2 separate regions of the Homo sapiens genome follow, and region 1 is linked to region 2. A link means that fine-mapping ties the variant in region 2 to the expression of a gene that starts in the linked region. Tissue or cell type: NK cells. Region 2 holds a variant in brackets; the other region holds the start of a gene. All regions are shown on one strand. Distances are between the middles of the regions.

What was found. PIP is the estimated chance that this variant, and not a neighbour inherited with it, causes the effect.
Region 1: it holds the start of PKN3, and the variant in region 2 is fine-mapped to the expression of PKN3 in NK cells (Schmiedel 2018, PIP 0.95).

What each region holds. Positions count from the first base shown.
Region 1 is chr9:128,699,221-128,707,220 of GRCh38, reverse strand. PKN3 (protein kinase N3) reads right to left here and starts at 4,718. Exons shown (of 22, transcript NM_013355.5): 1 at 4,282-4,718; 2 at 1,678-1,918; 3 at 1,342-1,487; 4 at 397-508; 5 at 198-325. The coding sequence starts at 4,305. RefSeq lists an enhancer at 3,902-4,441 and a silencer at 4,256-4,825.
Region 2 is chr9:128,744,301-128,752,552 of GRCh38, reverse strand. ZER1 (zyg-11 related cell cycle regulator) reads left to right here. Exons shown (of 16, transcript NM_006336.4): 6 at 1,026-1,140; 7 at 1,285-1,431; 8 at 1,764-1,937. It overlaps LOC124902340 (small nucleolar RNA U13), which reads right to left and starts at 3,195; the gene lies at 3,092-3,195. The variant G/A (reference allele first, on the strand shown) is at 4,426.

The DNA.
Region 1 (8,000 bases), 45 kb after region 2:
TGCAGAGGGGACAACGTAGAGCCAGGTTCGTGGGGTATATGGCAGGGGGCAGCAGCCCAGGTCACCCGGAGCCACCTTCCGCATGAAGTCTCAACAGAGAAGTCCTGCTTTTACACGGCCACCCTCCCTTCACACCCCTGCTGAGGGTGGTATGGGAACAAGCCAGCCTTAGGAGAGGGCCAGGGCTGGGGCCTGACCTCAGCCAGTGCCTTGCGGTCCTGTGTTCTCCGGCTACTAAGCAGTTTCACCACGTTCTTGGCGCCCTCAGCCACAGCTGCCTCAACGTGCAGTCGATGCTGTAGCTCCTCCGCCAGCAGCTCAGGCCCTGTGGGAAGGACGGCGGCTCTCAGGCCCTGCTCTTCCCTGCTCCGCCCTCCCTGTGTCTCAAGGCCTCACCTGGCTCCGGGGACCCACTGGCCTCCAGGCTGCTGATCTTCATCCGCAGCAGGGCCACCTTCAGCTGGCTGTCCCGCAGCATCTGCTGGGCAGCTGCCAGGAGCTTCCTCTCCTATGGAGCCATAGCACAGGCCCATCAGACCAGGCCTGGGCCACAGCTTCCCCCATCAGACCAGGAACTGGAGCCGGGTCTCCCCCATCAAAACAGGGTTAAAGTGAAACCTCTAGGCCAAACACTAAAGTCAAGCCTCCCTTGTTGGACTAGTTGGTGGGTCAGGGGAGCCTTTTCCATCTGACCAACAAGGGCTGGGGTCAAATTTCCTCTTTCATATCACGGCTGGGGTCATGCCTCTCCCATCAGATCAGGGCTGGGGCTAACTCTCCCCCATCAGATCAGGGCTGGGGCTAACTCTCCCCCATCAGATCAGGGCTGTGGTCATGCCTCCCCCATCAGAGCAGGGTTGATGCTTCCCCCATCAGATCAGGGCAGGGGCTAAGCTAAGCCTCCCCCATTAGATGAGGGCAGGGGCTAAGCTAAGCCTCTCCCATCAGATCAGGGCTGGGGATAAGCCTCCCCCATCAGATCAGGGCAGGGGCTAAGCTAAGCCTCCCCCATTAGATCAAGGCTAAGGTCCTGCCTCCGTCATCATATCAGGGCCACAGCCAAGTCTTCTTGTCAGACAAGGACTGAGGCCCAGTTCTGGACATCATGCTGGGAGTTGGGACTGGGGCTGGGCTAGGATCCCATTAGACCAGGGCAAGGCCTTCTCTGTCACACTAGAGACTACAGCCATGCCTTCCTCACCCAGCTGGGGTTTGGGGCTGTATTTTCCCCATCAGGCTGCAGGCTGGAATGGTGTCTCCTTATGAGCCCAATGGCTGAGGTGCATTTCCCTGTCAGACCAGGGGCCAGGGTGCTCCTGCCATCAGACTGTGGGGCCTTACCTTGGGGGTGCCACTGGCGCACGTGTGGGTCATGTTCTCAGCCCCCTGCTTCACCTTCAGCTCCACATGCAGCTGCCTCCGGAGAGCCTCTAGGTGCCGAGCCCTGAGCTGCTCTGCCCACGGCCGGGGTCCTGAGGCCACAGGCTCTGTGCACGGGGGTATCGAGCACAGGAGTCCCTCACCCAGAGCCGAGACCCCCACTGTGGCCTTTCCTCCTTCCCCTACTGATCTATAGGCAGGAAATGAGGTGGTCTCGCCACAGTGGCCAGGGCCAAGGCCAGGGGCCAGATGGGCCTAGAGCCTTCTGTCCTGAGGGGGTCTCAGCTCCTCACTCACCAGCTGGGCCAGGCCCAGGGCCGGGCAGCAGGATTCGGGCGTGCAGCTCCCGCAGCTCGCCATGCAGCTGCTCCAGGCGGCGGTTGGAGGACCGCAGCAGCTGCTGCACATGGCCCAAGTGGCGGCGGTCTGTGGCCACGCGCCGCAGGTTCTCCACCCCCTCCTTGATCTTCAGCTCTTTCTGGATGGCCCGGCGGATCACCTCCTTCTCATCCTCTGGGGGCCACTGGCTCGGCCCAGGCTGCAGAGCCGGTGGAAAGCAGAGGGTGGAGAACAGCCATGGGGTGCAGCGGCCACCAGCAGCCTTTGCTCACTGCAGATGGAGGCGAAGGAAGGGACGGCACCCAGGACTGACTCGCACAGGGTTTTGGAAGCCTCTCTCCCCTTAGAGCTCAGGCCTGAGCCAGATGGAAACTCCGAGGCCACTCATCTAGGCCAGGCTCCTGTCCTCCGCCCGTTAGAGAAGGATGTGGCGGGGGGGACAGTTCACACGGTAAATGGGTGCCAGGTTCTATTCTAAGTGCTTTGCATATATTACCACATCACTCCTCCCAGCCACCCCACCCGGTAGCGGTGGTCATTACCCCCATTTTCTTTTTTCTTTTTCTTTTTCTTTTTTTTTTTTTTGAGACAGTTTTGCTCTTGTTGCCCAGGCTGGAGTGCCATGGCACGATCTCGGTTCACCACAACCTCTGCCTCCCGGGTTCAAGCGATTCTCCTGCCCCAGCCTCCTGAGTAGCTGGGATTACAGGCACACGCCACTAAGCCCGGCTAATTTTGTATTTTTAGTAGGGACGGGGTTTCTCCATGTTCGTCAGGCTGGTCTTGAATCCTGACCTCAGGTGATCCACCTGCCTTGGCCTCCCAAAGTGCTGGGATTACAGGTGTGAGCCACCACGCCTGTACTATTACCCCTATTTTCTAGTGAGGAAACTGAGGCCCAGAGAGGTGAAGTAACTTGCCCACAGTCAAGACACAGAGGAGGGGCCACCATCTCTCGGGCCCCAGCTGTCCCTGGCAGCCCTGGGTAATCAGGCTGCTCTCTCTACATCTGGGACCCAAAGTAGAGTCCAGGAGCCACAAAAGCTACGCCGAATAGGGGTTCACACGAAGCCACATGAGAAGGCAGCCAGGGGCCTGGGAGCCAGGGCTTGTTCCCCTGATGTCCCAATGCCACAGGTAGCAAAGCAGAGGCACAGAGAGGAACTGGGGAGGTCTCCGGGTGCCCACTCCCTGCTCAGCTCCCGGGAGGAAGTAGAAGGCTCTCTCACGGCTTCACCCAGGTTGGAGCCAGGAACAGGAACACCTCCTTTCCAGCCGCCAGCATTTCAAACCAACCGGTGCCAAAGGTGACCTCAGGCCGGGTAACCCATGATGCCCCGCAACACGGGCTGTTGCAGGAACCCCATCTTACCTCTCTGTGTTCCATCTTCTCCTGAGCCCAGTGGAAGGGGCCGCAACCCCAGACTCAGGGACCCCCCCACCCCAGACCTCAGCGGGGCCTGCTGGCCCAGCTGTCAGAGGGCAAGGGCGAGGCTCAGGAAATCCTCTGACCGCCCTAGGCCACAGGGCCAGAGCCAAAGACCGGAGCAAACAAAGGTCCCATGGAGCTGGGGGCCCGGCCACCGGGGTCCTGAGTCACCCAGCTGCCGCTGCAGGGCGGAGCCCCGCAGGAAATCGGAAAATGTGTACAAGCTACGTCTGGAACAGGCGGAGGGACCTCCAGAGGAAGGGGGTGGGAGGGGGCAGACCGAGCCCCAGCCCTGAAGGCGGCCTAAACGACTGGCTTGGGCGCTCAAGGAGTCTACACGCACCCCGCAACACCCCCATGGTCCCGTCTGCCCTGGGTTGGAACTCCAACATGGACACACACACCACCTCCTTTCCGCTCTTTGCGGGGACCCACTCCTGTCCGCAAATGCCCCCCTCCCAACCACTCGCTCCGGAACAGGACACCACCTCTCCCTCCTCAGGAGCAGATAGACATGGCCTCGGTCCTCCGGGCCCACGCGCACCTACTGCCAGCTCTGGCAGGAAACCCAGCCCCCTCCGCATTCTAGAACCCGCTATGTACCCAAAGGTTCCCGCCCTGGGGCGGGGGAGGCCGCTCCCCTCTCATCTACGCTCCCCTCGTGCCTCCTGTGCTCCGGGAAGGACTCCTGCCACTGCCAAGCGCGCACAGACTGCGCCCCCCGCTGCGCGCACATTCTAACCCCCCCAGGCCCCTGTGCCCCGCCTTTCTATCCCGGCTAATTCCCGTCGGCCTTGGAGCCCCACCGAGGAGAACCGACTTAAGGACACTCTGGGGACCACCCTGGTGGCGCACACTGCGGACTCAGCCGTCCTCGCTCACGGGCTGGTTGGGGTTCAGTCTCCGGGTCAGCCGCGGACTGATTTGGAGACTGTGCAAGGTCCAGGAACCACCGAACCCGGAGATCAGGTCTGCTCTGCGAGGGCGTCGCGGGGCCGGGGCCAGGGCAGGGGCAGGGAAGGGGCGCGGGTGAGGGGAGGATCGGGGGAAGCGGCCGCGGTTCGGGGCTCCGGGGCGATGACAGAGGCTTTCTCGCACCCCCCGGGCCCGCGCGCCCCTCCCACGCCGTTCACCTGCCGCGGCGCCCCCTCCTCCATGGCGCCGCTCCGGCCGCTTGGGGCCCTTCTCTCAGCCACTCCGGTCCCGGAAGCCGCAGACCCTCCGCCAGGACTTTCAAACTTGAAACTTCCCGGGAAGCGGCGCCGGAGACGCGGGATCGGGCGCCCCCTCCCGAGACCCGCTGGCCCGCGGGACCAGCGCCGCCTCCCGTCCGCGCCGATCCAGCGCCCGGGACCCCACGCCCGAGGTCCCGCGCCCCAGCGCCTCCCTCGGATCCAAAATTCCGCGGGATTCTGGGCCCAGTACCCGGGCTTCGGCGCCTGCGGTTCCCGCTGGGCGTGACCGCGCCTCACCCCCGGTTTGGACGCTCAGGAGGCACATCGCCCGCGCCCAGGTCCTCTGGCCTTCCCCGCCGCGCGCCCGCGGGAGCCGGCCAGTTAGGGACAGGGATGGGGGAAACAGCGCCCCCTGAAGGTTGCCGGGTCGCCCAGCCGGGTGCAGCCGGTGGAGCTGGCCGCCTCCTCTAACTTTGAGCCCCTCTACAACCTGGCTCCCGCCTCTAACGCGCTGGGCCTCCTCGACCAAGCCCCTCAAGTCTCTCTTTGTCTCGCACGTTGTTGGTGTAATGTGGGCTAATCCAAAATTGTCTCTCTCCTCGGAGTGGTTGGCCCAGACTAGATATTAGTCACTACAAGAATGTATACTAGGCCAGGTGCGGTGGCTCACGCCTGTAATCCCAGCAGTTTGGGAGGCAGAGGTGGACGGATCACGAGGTCAGGAGTTCGAGACCAGCCTGGCCAACATGGTGAAACCCCCGTCTCTACTAAAAATACAAAAATTAGCCGGTCGTGGTGGCGGGCGCCTGTAATCCCAGCTACTCAGGAGGCTGAGGTGGGAGAATCACTTGTACCCAGTAGGCGGAGGTTGCAGTGAGCCGAGATCCTGCCACTGCCCTCCAACCTGGGTGACAGAGCGAGACTCCATCTCAAAAAAAAAAAAAAAAAAAAAAAAAGAACGTATACTTGTGGAAAAGTAAATCCTCACCCAAAATTATGATAAATTACAAATTACAGATGAATGAACCAGACCTCTCTCCGGCCCATCTCTTACTCAGACTGAGCTTGCTGGTTCAGCCCGTGCCACTTTTTAGGGCTTTACCCTAAAAAGCCCATCCATCCACACGGGAGAAAAGCCATTTACACCTGGTGAAATAGCCGCCACTATTTCAGCCCAAGGGAGGTGTGCTGGTCACTGCCTAGTCTATGGCGGGCCATTCAGCCCGTCCTGGCATCCTGCGTTTACAGGAGGTTGTGTCAGCACTTCGTGGAGGAGCGTCCTCCAGGAGGTGGGAAGGTGATGAAGGGTCAAATACCGACAGTGACTTGGAACAGACAGGCTCTGGTGCTCTTACTGAATGAAGGAAGCCACATGTTGTGCTTTGCACTAATCACTTCCTTCATAATGGACTGGAAAAAAGTGAAATTGGTGAGCCATGGACAACACTGGGTTGTCCTGCTATGGGAAATCACCCAAGTGGCATTGACATATAAGCAAAGGCAACTTGGCTCTGTGAAACATGCCCAGATTTCATAATCAGAGGCGAAATGTGACATTTACACATTAGAGTTGTTGAGGTCTAGACATTAGCAGAAGCACCTGGCACATAGTAGGTTCTTTGACATGGGGGTTGGCTGGGCATGGTGGCTCATGCCTGTAATCCCAGCACTTTGGGAGGCTGAGGAGGGCAGATCACTTAAGGTCAGGAGTTCAAGACCAGCCTGGCCAACATGGTGAAATCCCGTCTCTGCTAAAAAAAAATTAAAAAGGCAGCTGGGCGCGGTGGCTCACGCCTGTAATCCTAGCACTTTGGGAGGCCGAGGCAGGCGGATCACAAGGTCAGGAGTTCGAGACCAGCCTGGCCAACATGGTGAAACCCCGTCTCTACTAAAACTACAAAAAAAAAATATTAGCTGGGCATGGTGGTGGGTGCCTGTAATCCCAGCTACTAGGGAGGCTGAGGCTGGAGAATCACTTGAACCTGGGAAGTGGAGGTTGCAGTAAGCCAATCTCGCCACTACACTCCAGCCTAGATGACAAGAGCAAAACTGCATCTCAAAAAAATACATAAAATAAAAAATTAGAAAAACTAGCTGGGCGTGGTAGCGCACGCCTGTAGTCCCAGCTACTCGGGAGGCTGAGGCAGGCAAATCACCTGAATCTGGGAGGCAGAGGTTGCAGCGAGCTAAGATCACGCCACTACACTCCAGCCTGGGCAACAGAGCAAGATTCTGTCTCAAGAAAAATAAATAAATAAAAATAAAATAAAATGGAGGTTAAATGAACGTTATTATCCATCATTTAGAAGCAAAAAGGCTGACCAAGCCCAGTGGCTCATGCCTGTAATCCTAGAACTCTGGGAGGCTGATGAGGCAGGAGGATTGCTTGAGGCCTAAGAGTTCAAGACCAACCTGGCCAACATAGTGAGACACCATCTCTTAAAAAAGTAAAATAAAGAAGTAAAAAAGTCCTCAGCTTCTCACTGCAGCTCATCAAAAACCCAGGAATCAAACTAACAAGCCTTCCCCACCTTTTAGGAATTCTCCAGTGGTGCAATCAGTCCAGCCAGCTAATTAACACTTTAAAATGTGTATTTGCCTTGATGGCTAAATGTTACTTCTGGAAGCCAAGAGTAATCTGAGATAACTCTCCATAGGAGGGTGCTCACATCTCAACTCCCGGCTCATTTATCCACTCACTGCAGGCAGGAAGCTGAATTCGATGGTTTTCCAAGTTTGGTTGGAAAGTGGCTTTGTTTTTTGTTTTTTTGAGAGAGTCTTGCTCTGTCACCCAGGCTGGAGTGCAGTGGCTCAATTTTGGCTCACTGCAACCTCCACCTCCCGGGTCCAAGTGATTCTCATGCCTCAGCCTCCTGAGTAGCTGGGACTACAGGCACATGCCACCACACCTGGCTAATTTTTTTTTTTTTTTTTTTTTCTTTGAGACGGAGTCTCGCACTTTCGCCCAGGCTAGAGTGTAGTGGCTGATCTCGGCTCACTGCAAGCTCCGCCTCCAGGGTTCACGCCATTCTCCTGCCTCAGCCTCCCGAGTAGCTGGGACTACAGGCGCCCACCACCACGCCCGGCTAATTTTTGTATTTTTAGTAGAGACGGGGTTTCACTGTGTTAGCCAGGATGGTCTCGATCTTCTGACCTTGTGATCTGCTCGCCTCGGCCTCTCAAAGTGCTGGGATTACAGGCGGGAGCCACCGCGCTCGGCACACCTGGCTAATTTTTTATATTTTTAGTAGAGATGGGGTTTCACCATGTTGGCCAGGCCAGTCTCGAACTCCTGACCTCACGTGATGCACCTGCCTCAGCCTACCAAAGTGCTGGGATTACAGGTGTGGCTGCCGCGCCCGACCTGGGGAGTGTTTTTCACCACCTTACACAGGGAAGCCAAGTCCTGGACTGCTGGATGAGTCTGACCAGGTAGTTGCACCTTACTTCTGATAGTGATAACACTTCATAAGACTGGAATTCTTAGGAAATTCGTGTTCAGCATTTAGTGGACCGTGAATAGTGCAAACCAACTCTCTAGCCAGTTGGCCTTTAAAAGACTATAACTCACTGGGCGCGGCGGCTCGCCTGTAATCCCAACACTTTGAGAGGCCGAGGCGGGCGGATCACGTAAGGTCGGGAGTTCAAGACCAGCCTGACCAACATGGACAAAGCCC
Region 2 (8,252 bases):
GGCCAGGAGTTAGAGACCAGCCTGGCCAACATGGTGAAACCCCATTTCTACTAAAAATACAAAATTTAGCTGGACATGGTGGCAGACACCTGTAGTCCCAGCTACTTGGGAGGCTAAGGTATGAGAATTGAAGCCGGGAGGCGGAGCCTGCAGTGAGCTGAGATCGCGCCACTGCACTCCAGCCTAGGCAACAAAGTGGGACTTTGTCTCAAAAAAAAAAAAAAAGAAAGTATTTGCCAAGTACCCCTCTGCCAAGTGCTGTGCTGGGTGCTAGAGATAAAGAAACAAATCAGGTCCTGCCCTCTTGGAGGCTGTGTGAGCTGGTGGGGACAATCAAGTCATTACAAGGGCTATGGTAGGGGCAATCCAGGGCCCCGGTGTGGCCTGAGGATCAGGAAGGAAGGAGGAGGAGGGACGCATCCTGGCTGTCCTGAAAGCTCATTCTGCCTCTGCCAGAGGAAGCGTGTTCTAGCAGAGGGAACAGCACCTGCAAAGGCCAGTAGGTGAGAGCATGAGGAGCGACAGGGGAACTACCCAACACTCAGCCTGACCAGAGCACAGTGCCATGGGGGGAAGAGGCAAGGCTGGCAGTGTCTGCCACCTATGGAGTATTGCTGGACATAGGTCGGTTCTTGGATTGGTTGGTTGAGAAGTTTGACCAAACCCTACCAGCTGTAACTGGCCACCCATAAGCCCTGGCCCCAGCCTGCTTTAATGGTGTTCAGTTGAGCTTGTCCCTTTGTGATTGTTGGTGAGACCTAAAGGTGCCATGTCCTTACTAGAATGGCAGGTGGTTTCTAAAGGTGGCTGCATTGCCCATCCTATGTGTTCCCCTACTATGTGGCTTTGCCATGCTTCCATCAGGAGGTGGTGCTTATGTCCCCTACCATTAAAAACAAAAGGAGTAGGGGATGAGGTTGGAGGGCCTAGAAGAGAAAGCAAGGAAATGCCTCACCACCCCCAGTGGGGAGGCCCAGCTCAGGCCTGGGTCCCAAGCCACTGACACCGGCACCCTCTTTCCCCAGCATTGAGCCTTCCAAGAGCAGCATCATACCTTTCCGGGCTCTGAAGAGGCCGCTGCAGTTCCTCGGGCTCTTTGAGAACTCTCTGTGCCGCCTCACGCACATTCCAGCCTACAAAGTGAGCAGTGGAAGTGGGATGGGTCTGGGCCAGGGAGCCTTGGGAGAGAGAAGGAGCTGGATTCTGGGGCTGGAGACTGAGCTGGGATCTGGCATCCCAGCCCTTGGCCTCTGCTGGGTTGTTCTGAGCGTGTCCCACCCGCAGGTAAGTGGTGACAAAAACGAAGAGCAGGTGCTGAATGCCATCGAGGCCTACACGGAGCACCGGCCTGAGATCACCTCGCGGGCCATCAACTTGCTTTTTGACATCGCCCGCATCGAGCGTTGCAACCAGCTGCTGCGGGCCCTGAAGGTCAGCTCCAAGCCTGGGGCCTTGGCCTCCTGTCCCTCCCCACCTGGAGGTTGCCGGGCTTGGCTGAGCCGTGTCCCCAGAGCCTGTGTCCTTCTGCACCCTGTCCCCAGGGCCCCAGGACCCGAACCCCAGCCTGGGCCTCACAGCACTTGACTTGCTTCAGCACTGGCCTTGTTTGGTCCCCACCCTGGTGTCTGCTCCCCAGGCCCCACTTCTGCCTTTAGAGAGCAAGACCAGGCTAAACCTTGCCCCAGAGAGCCTGTTCCAGCCCCTTGCAGAGCCCAGGCCTCTCCCTGCACTTGCCAGCCCAGGTCCCCCTTGTCTTCATACAGCTGGTCATCACGGCCCTCAAGTGCCACAAATATGACAGGAACATTCAAGTGACAGGCAGCGCCGCTCTCTTCTACCTAACAAATTCCGAGTACCGCTCAGAGCAGAGTGTGAAGCTGCGCCGGCAGGTTATCCAGGTGGTGCTGAATGGCATGGAATCCTACCAGGAGGTGACGGTGAGCCCCCACCCGCCACGGCCCCGCATGCTCTGGCCCAGCCACCCCTTTCCTGCTTCTTGCGTCCCGCTAGGGCTCCCCCGGCTCTGGGCTGCATCTGTCCCAGCTCCCTTTCCCACAGCAGCACTCCCTGACTCTTGGGACCTGGCCCTTCCCACAGTCCATCACTCCTGGCTGCCCTCCATCCTCCTCCCTGCCCCATGTGGGGGTGGGGGCCCAGGGACCCTGCCCTTCTCCCTGCCTGTGCCGTCTCCTCAGCCCTTCTGCCCATACACTCTGCTGGGGGATTTCTTACCAACAGCTGCTTTTAATATAAAAGTAATAAAAGCCTTTATTATAGAAAAGTTATAATTACAGATATACAGAAAATAAAAATCACCCATAAACCCACTACCCAGAGACAGGCACCATTAACATGGGATATCAATTGTGAATTTTAGCCTATGCACACATATTTTGTAAATGGGATACACAAACTGCATACTGTTTGTATATGGTGGATTTTTACTTCAACTGTGTTGTCACATGAATATGAACATCTCCCTTATCCGCCAACAATTTTTTTCTTTTTTGAGATGGAGTTTCACTCTTATTGCCCAGGCTGGAGTGCAATGGCACAATCTCGGGTCACTGCAACTTCCACCTCCCGGGTTCAAGTGATTCTCCTGTCTCAGCCTCCCGAGTAGCTGGGATTACAGGCATGCGCCACCATGCCCGGCTAATTTTGTATTTTTAGTAAAGATGGGATTTTACCATATTGGTCAGGCTGGTCTCGAACTCCTGACCTCAGGTGATCCACCTGCCTCAGCCTCCCAAAGTGCTGGGATTACAGATGTGAGCCACTGCGCCTGGCCAGCCAACAAATTTTTTTTTCAGATGGAGTCTTGCTCTGTTGCCCAAGCTGGAGAGCAGTGGCGGGTTCAAGTGATTCTCCTGCCTCAGCCTCCCAAGTAGCTGGGACTACAGGTGCATGCCACCACACCTGCCTAATTTATGTATTTTTAGTAGAGACGGGGTTTTGCCATGTTGGTCAGTCTGGTGTTGAACTCCTGACCTCAGGTGATCCACCTGCCTCAGCCTCCCAAAGTGCTGGGATTACAAGCATGTGCCACCACACCCAGCCAACATATTTATATAACAAAAACTTTTTTTCATTTCAGATGGGCAATATGCCAACGTCCTAACATGGTTTGAGGGAGGCACATTTCACACATGAGCATGAAGACCTAATCATCACTCTTATAAACTACGAAAGGATCAAACAATAATTTTTATTTATTTATTTTTTCGAGATGGAGTCTTACTCTGTCGCCCAGGCTGGAGTGCAGTGCACAATCTTGGCTCACTGCAATCTCTGCCTCCTGAGTTCAAGTGATCCTCCTGCCTCAGCCCCCCTAGTGGCTGGGACTACAGGCACGTGCCACCATGCCAGGCTAATATTTGTATTTTTAGTAGAGACAGGGTTTCGCCATGTTGGCCAGGCTGGTCTCGAACTCCTGAGCTCAGGTGATCCACCTGCCTCGGCCTCCCAAAGTGCTGGGATTACAGGCGTGAGCCACCGTGCTCAGCCACAATATATATATATATATTTTAATTAAGACAGGGTCTCAGGCTGGGCGTGGTGGCTCACGCCTGTAATCCCAGCACTTTGGGAGGCTGAGGCAGGCAGATCATGAGGTCAGGAGTTTGAGACCAGCCTGGCCAACATGGCGAAACCCCATCTCTACTAAAAAATACAAAAATTAGCTGGCCACGGTGGCTCACACCTGTAATCCCAGCACTTTGGGAGGCTGAGGCAGGCGGATCACCTGAAGTCAGGAGTTCGAGACCAGCCTGGCCAACGTGGTGAAACCCTGTCTCTACTAAAAATACACAAATTAGCTGGGCATGGTGGCAGGCGCCTGTAGTCCCAGCTACCTGGGAGGCTGAGGCAGGAGAATTGCTGGAACCCAGGAGGTAGAGGTTGCAGTGAGCTGAGATCAAGCCACCGAACTCCAGCCTGGGTGACAGAGGGAGACTCTGTCACAAAGAAAAACAAAAACAAATACACAGGGTCTCACTTTGTTGCCAAGGCTGGAGTATAGCGGCATGATCACAGCTCACTGTGGCCTCCACCTCTCAGGCTCAAGCAAGCCTCCCAACTCAGCCTCCCCAGTAGCTGGGACAACAAGGCATGTACCACCACACCCAACTAATTTTTTTTTTTTTTTTTTTGAGACAGAGTCTCGCTCTGTCACCCAGGCTGGAGTTAAGTGGCACGATCTCGGCTCACTGCAAGCTCCACCTCCCAGGTTCACGCTATTCTGCCTCAGCCTCCCGAGTAGCTGGGACTACAGGCGCCCGCCACCCTGCCACGCTAAGTTTTTGTATTTTTAGTGGAGACGGGGTTTCACTGTGTTAGCCAGGATGGTCTCAATCTCCTGACCTCATGATCCGCCTGCGTCGGCCTCCCAAAGTGCTGGGATTATAGGCATGAGCCACCATGCCC[G/A]GCCCACAGTCAGCTAATTTGTATTTGTGTGTGTCTGTGTGTATGTGGTGACGGGGTCTCGCTGTGTTGCCCTTGCTATCCCCTAGCTCAAGTGATCCTCCTGCCTTGGTTTCCCAAAGTGCTGGGATTATAAGCATGAGCCATTGCACTAGGCCCAAAAATTGTTTAATAATGTTTCTTTTCTGATTACAAAAGATATCTAATGCTTAAGCCAGGTGTGGTGGCCCTCACCTGTAATCTCAGCACTTTGGAGGGCCGAGGAAGGCAGATCACTTAAGATCAGGAGTTCCAGACCAGCCTGGCCAACATGGTGAAACCCTATCTCTACTAAAACTACAAAAATTAGCCGGGCATACTGGCGGGTGCCTGTAGTCCCAGCTACTCCACTCCGGAGGCTAAGGCAGGAGAATTGCTTAAACTCGGGAGGTGGAGATTTCAGTGAGCTGAGATCGTGCCACTGCACTCCAGTCTGGGTGACGAAGCAAGACTCTGTGTCAAAACAAAACCAAAAACAAAAAAAAGATACCTAAATGCTTAAAAGATGAAAAAATTCAAGTGATACAAGAATGTATTAAATAGAGCGAAAGCCACTTACAATCTCACCTCTCCTCCTCTAGATGCAGCTGGTGTTAAGGCTCACTTTCATGACTGCTGACACCAGCATATGTTCAGTGTCCTCATCCAGGGAGAGGCCACTGTGTGGAGGACTCTGCTGGAGCTTGGAGGGAGTGGCCAAGGTCAAGGCTCTGCCCAGTGTGTGAAACAGCCCCCAGGGCCAAATAATTTAGGTTGCTGTTTCATCTTTTGCTCTCTCAAGCAATGCTTTGTTAATTATACTTAATTAGTTATCCTTATAATACATTTCTGTAAGTAGAGTTGTAGAATTTCAGGGGCAGTATGTGTGTGTGTATATTTTTTCTTTTCTTTTTTTTTGAGACAGAGTCTCTGTTGCTCAGGCTGGAGTGTAGTGGTGTGATCTCGGCTCACTACAACCTCTACCTCCCAGGTTCAAGCGATTCTCCTGCCTCAGTGTCCTGAGTAGCTGGGACTACAGGAGCATGCCACCACGCCTGGCTAATTTTTGTATTTTTAATAGAGACAAGATTTCACCATGTTGGCCAGGCTGGTCTGGAACTCCTCCTAGCCTCAAGTGACCTGCCCACCTGCCCCTTCTCTACAAAAAAATTTTTTTAGGCCGGCGCAGTGGCTCATGCCTATAATCCCAGCACTTTGGGAGGCCAAGGTGGGTGGATCACCTGAGGTCAGGAATTCAAGACCAGCCTGGCCAACATGGTGAAACCCGGTCTCTACTTAAAATACAAAAATTAGCTGAGTGTGCCGGTGGGCACCTGTAATCCCAGCTACTCAGGAGGCTGAGGCAGGAGAATCTCTTGAACCCAGGAGGCAGAGGTTGCAGTGAGCCGAGATGGTACCATTGCACTCCAACCTGGGTGACGAGAGTGAAACTCTGTCTCAAAAAAAAAAAATTTTTTTTTAATTAGCTGGGTGTGGTGCTATGCGTCTGTAGCCCCAGCTACTCGGAGGCCGAGGTGGGATGATTGCTTGAGCCTGGGAAGTGGAGGCTGCAGTCAGTGAACTAAGATTCTACCACTGCACTCTAGCCTGGGCAACAGAGGAGACCCTGTCTTAAAAAAAAAAAAAAAAAAAAGGAAAAGAAGAGAGAAAAAGAAGACTAGTTGGAGACTCCCAAATGAATTAATAAATCTGTCACAGAAATGGAAATCAAAATAAGAGGAAGTCACATTTCATCTCAAGAGCTTGGTGATACCCAGTGTTGCAAAGATAGGGAAGAGCACCCTCACACCCTGTCTACTGGTAAGGGATGAATCGTGCAACCTTTGTGAAGGGCAACCAGCAGAACCTGCCAAAATTCTAAATGCATCTATCTTTTGACCTAGCCATTCTGCAATTAGAACTGTTCTTAGAGGAAAAAGATATATCCTCACTTGTAAAATTTTTTTGAAAAAGGCCGGGCACAGTGGCTCATGCCTGTAATCCTCACACTTTGGGAGGCTGAGGCAGATGGATCACTTGAGGCAAGGAGTTCTGGACCATCCTGGCCAACATGGCGAAACTCCATCTCTACCAAAAATACAAAAATTAGCCGGGCGTGGTGGTGTGTGCCTGTAATCCCAGCTACTAGGGAGGCTGAGGCAGGAGGATTGCTTGAACCCAGAAGGTAGAGGTTGCAGTGAACCAAGATGGTGCCAGTGCACTCCAGCCTGGGTGACAAAGTGAGACTCTGTCTCAAAAAATAAATAAATAAAATAAAATTTAAACTGAAAAAAAGGCGGGGTGTGATGGCACATACCCAGAAATCCCAGCCACCTTGGAAGCTGAGGTGTGAAAAATTTCTTGAGCCCAGGAGTTCGAGGCTGCAGTGAGCTATGATGGCACCACTGTACTCCAGGCTGGGCAACAGAGAGACCGCGTCTTAAAAATAAATAAAAGGCCAGGCAAGGTGGCTCACACCTATAATCCCAGCACTTTGGGAGGCTGAGGCGGGTGGATCATCTGAGGTCAGGAGTTCAAGACCAGCCTGGCCAACATGGTGAAACCCTGTCTCTACTAAAATACAAAAATTAGCCAGGCATGATGGTGGGTGCCTGTAATCCCAGCTACTTGGGAGGCTGAGACGGGAGAATCGCTTGCACTGGAAGGTGGTTGCAGCGAGCCAGGATCATGCCACTGCACTCCAGCCTGGGTGATAAGAGTAAATGAGACTCCATCTCAAAAAAAAAATTTTTTTTTAATTGGCCAGATGTGGTGATGTGCGCCTGTAGTCCCAGCTACTCAGGAGGCTGAAGTAGGAGGATTGCTTCAGCCCAGGATTTTGAGGCTGCAATGAGCTATGGTCCAGCCTGGGCAACAGAATCAGACACTGTCTCAAAAAAAAAAAAAAAAAAACCCAAACAAATCAATAAGCAAATAAACCTGCAGACAGTACAAAGAAAACTGAGGATGTAGAGCAACTGGAGAGCTCCTACACTGCTGGTAGGAGTGTAAACTGCTAAAGCCACTGCGGAAAACAGTCTAGTGTTACCTAAAAAGGTTGAAGACATGTACATCTTGTGACCCAGAAGTCATACCAGGCATGTGTGCCCTAAAGAAACCCATGCTTATGGTCACCAGGATGCAGGTATAATACATGGCTCACAGTAGCCAACTCTTAGAGTCACCCAGACATCCATCAGCAGTAGAATGGATGAAAAAATTGGGGTGTCATGATGGAATACTATACTGTAATGAAAAATGAATGCATTTCAGCTACGTATAACAACAGTTAATCTTGCAAACCTATAGAATATCTCTATAAAAAGCGGGGGCCAGCCAGGCATGGTGGCTCATGCCTGTAATCCCAGCACTTTGGGAGGCTGAGGCAGGTGGATCACCTGAGGTCAGGAGTTCCAGACCAGCCTGGCCAACATGACGAAACCCTGTCTCTACTAAAAATACAAAAATTAGCCAGGCATGGTGGCTGGAGCCTGTAATCGCAGCTACTTGGGAGGCTGAGGCAGAAGAATCACTTGAACCTGGGAGGCAGAGGTTGCAGTGAGCTGAGATCACGCCATTGCATTCCAGCCTTGGCAACAAGAGTGAAACTCCATCCAAAAAAAAAAAAAGGCCCTGCACGGTGGCTCACATCTGTAATCCCAGCACTTTGGGAGGCTGAGGCTGGTGGATCATGAGATCAAGACCATCTTGGCCAACATGGTAAAACCCTGTCTCTACTAAAAATACAAAAAAATTAGCTGGGCATGGTAGCACGCACCTATAATCCCAGCTACTTGGGAGGCTGAGGCAGG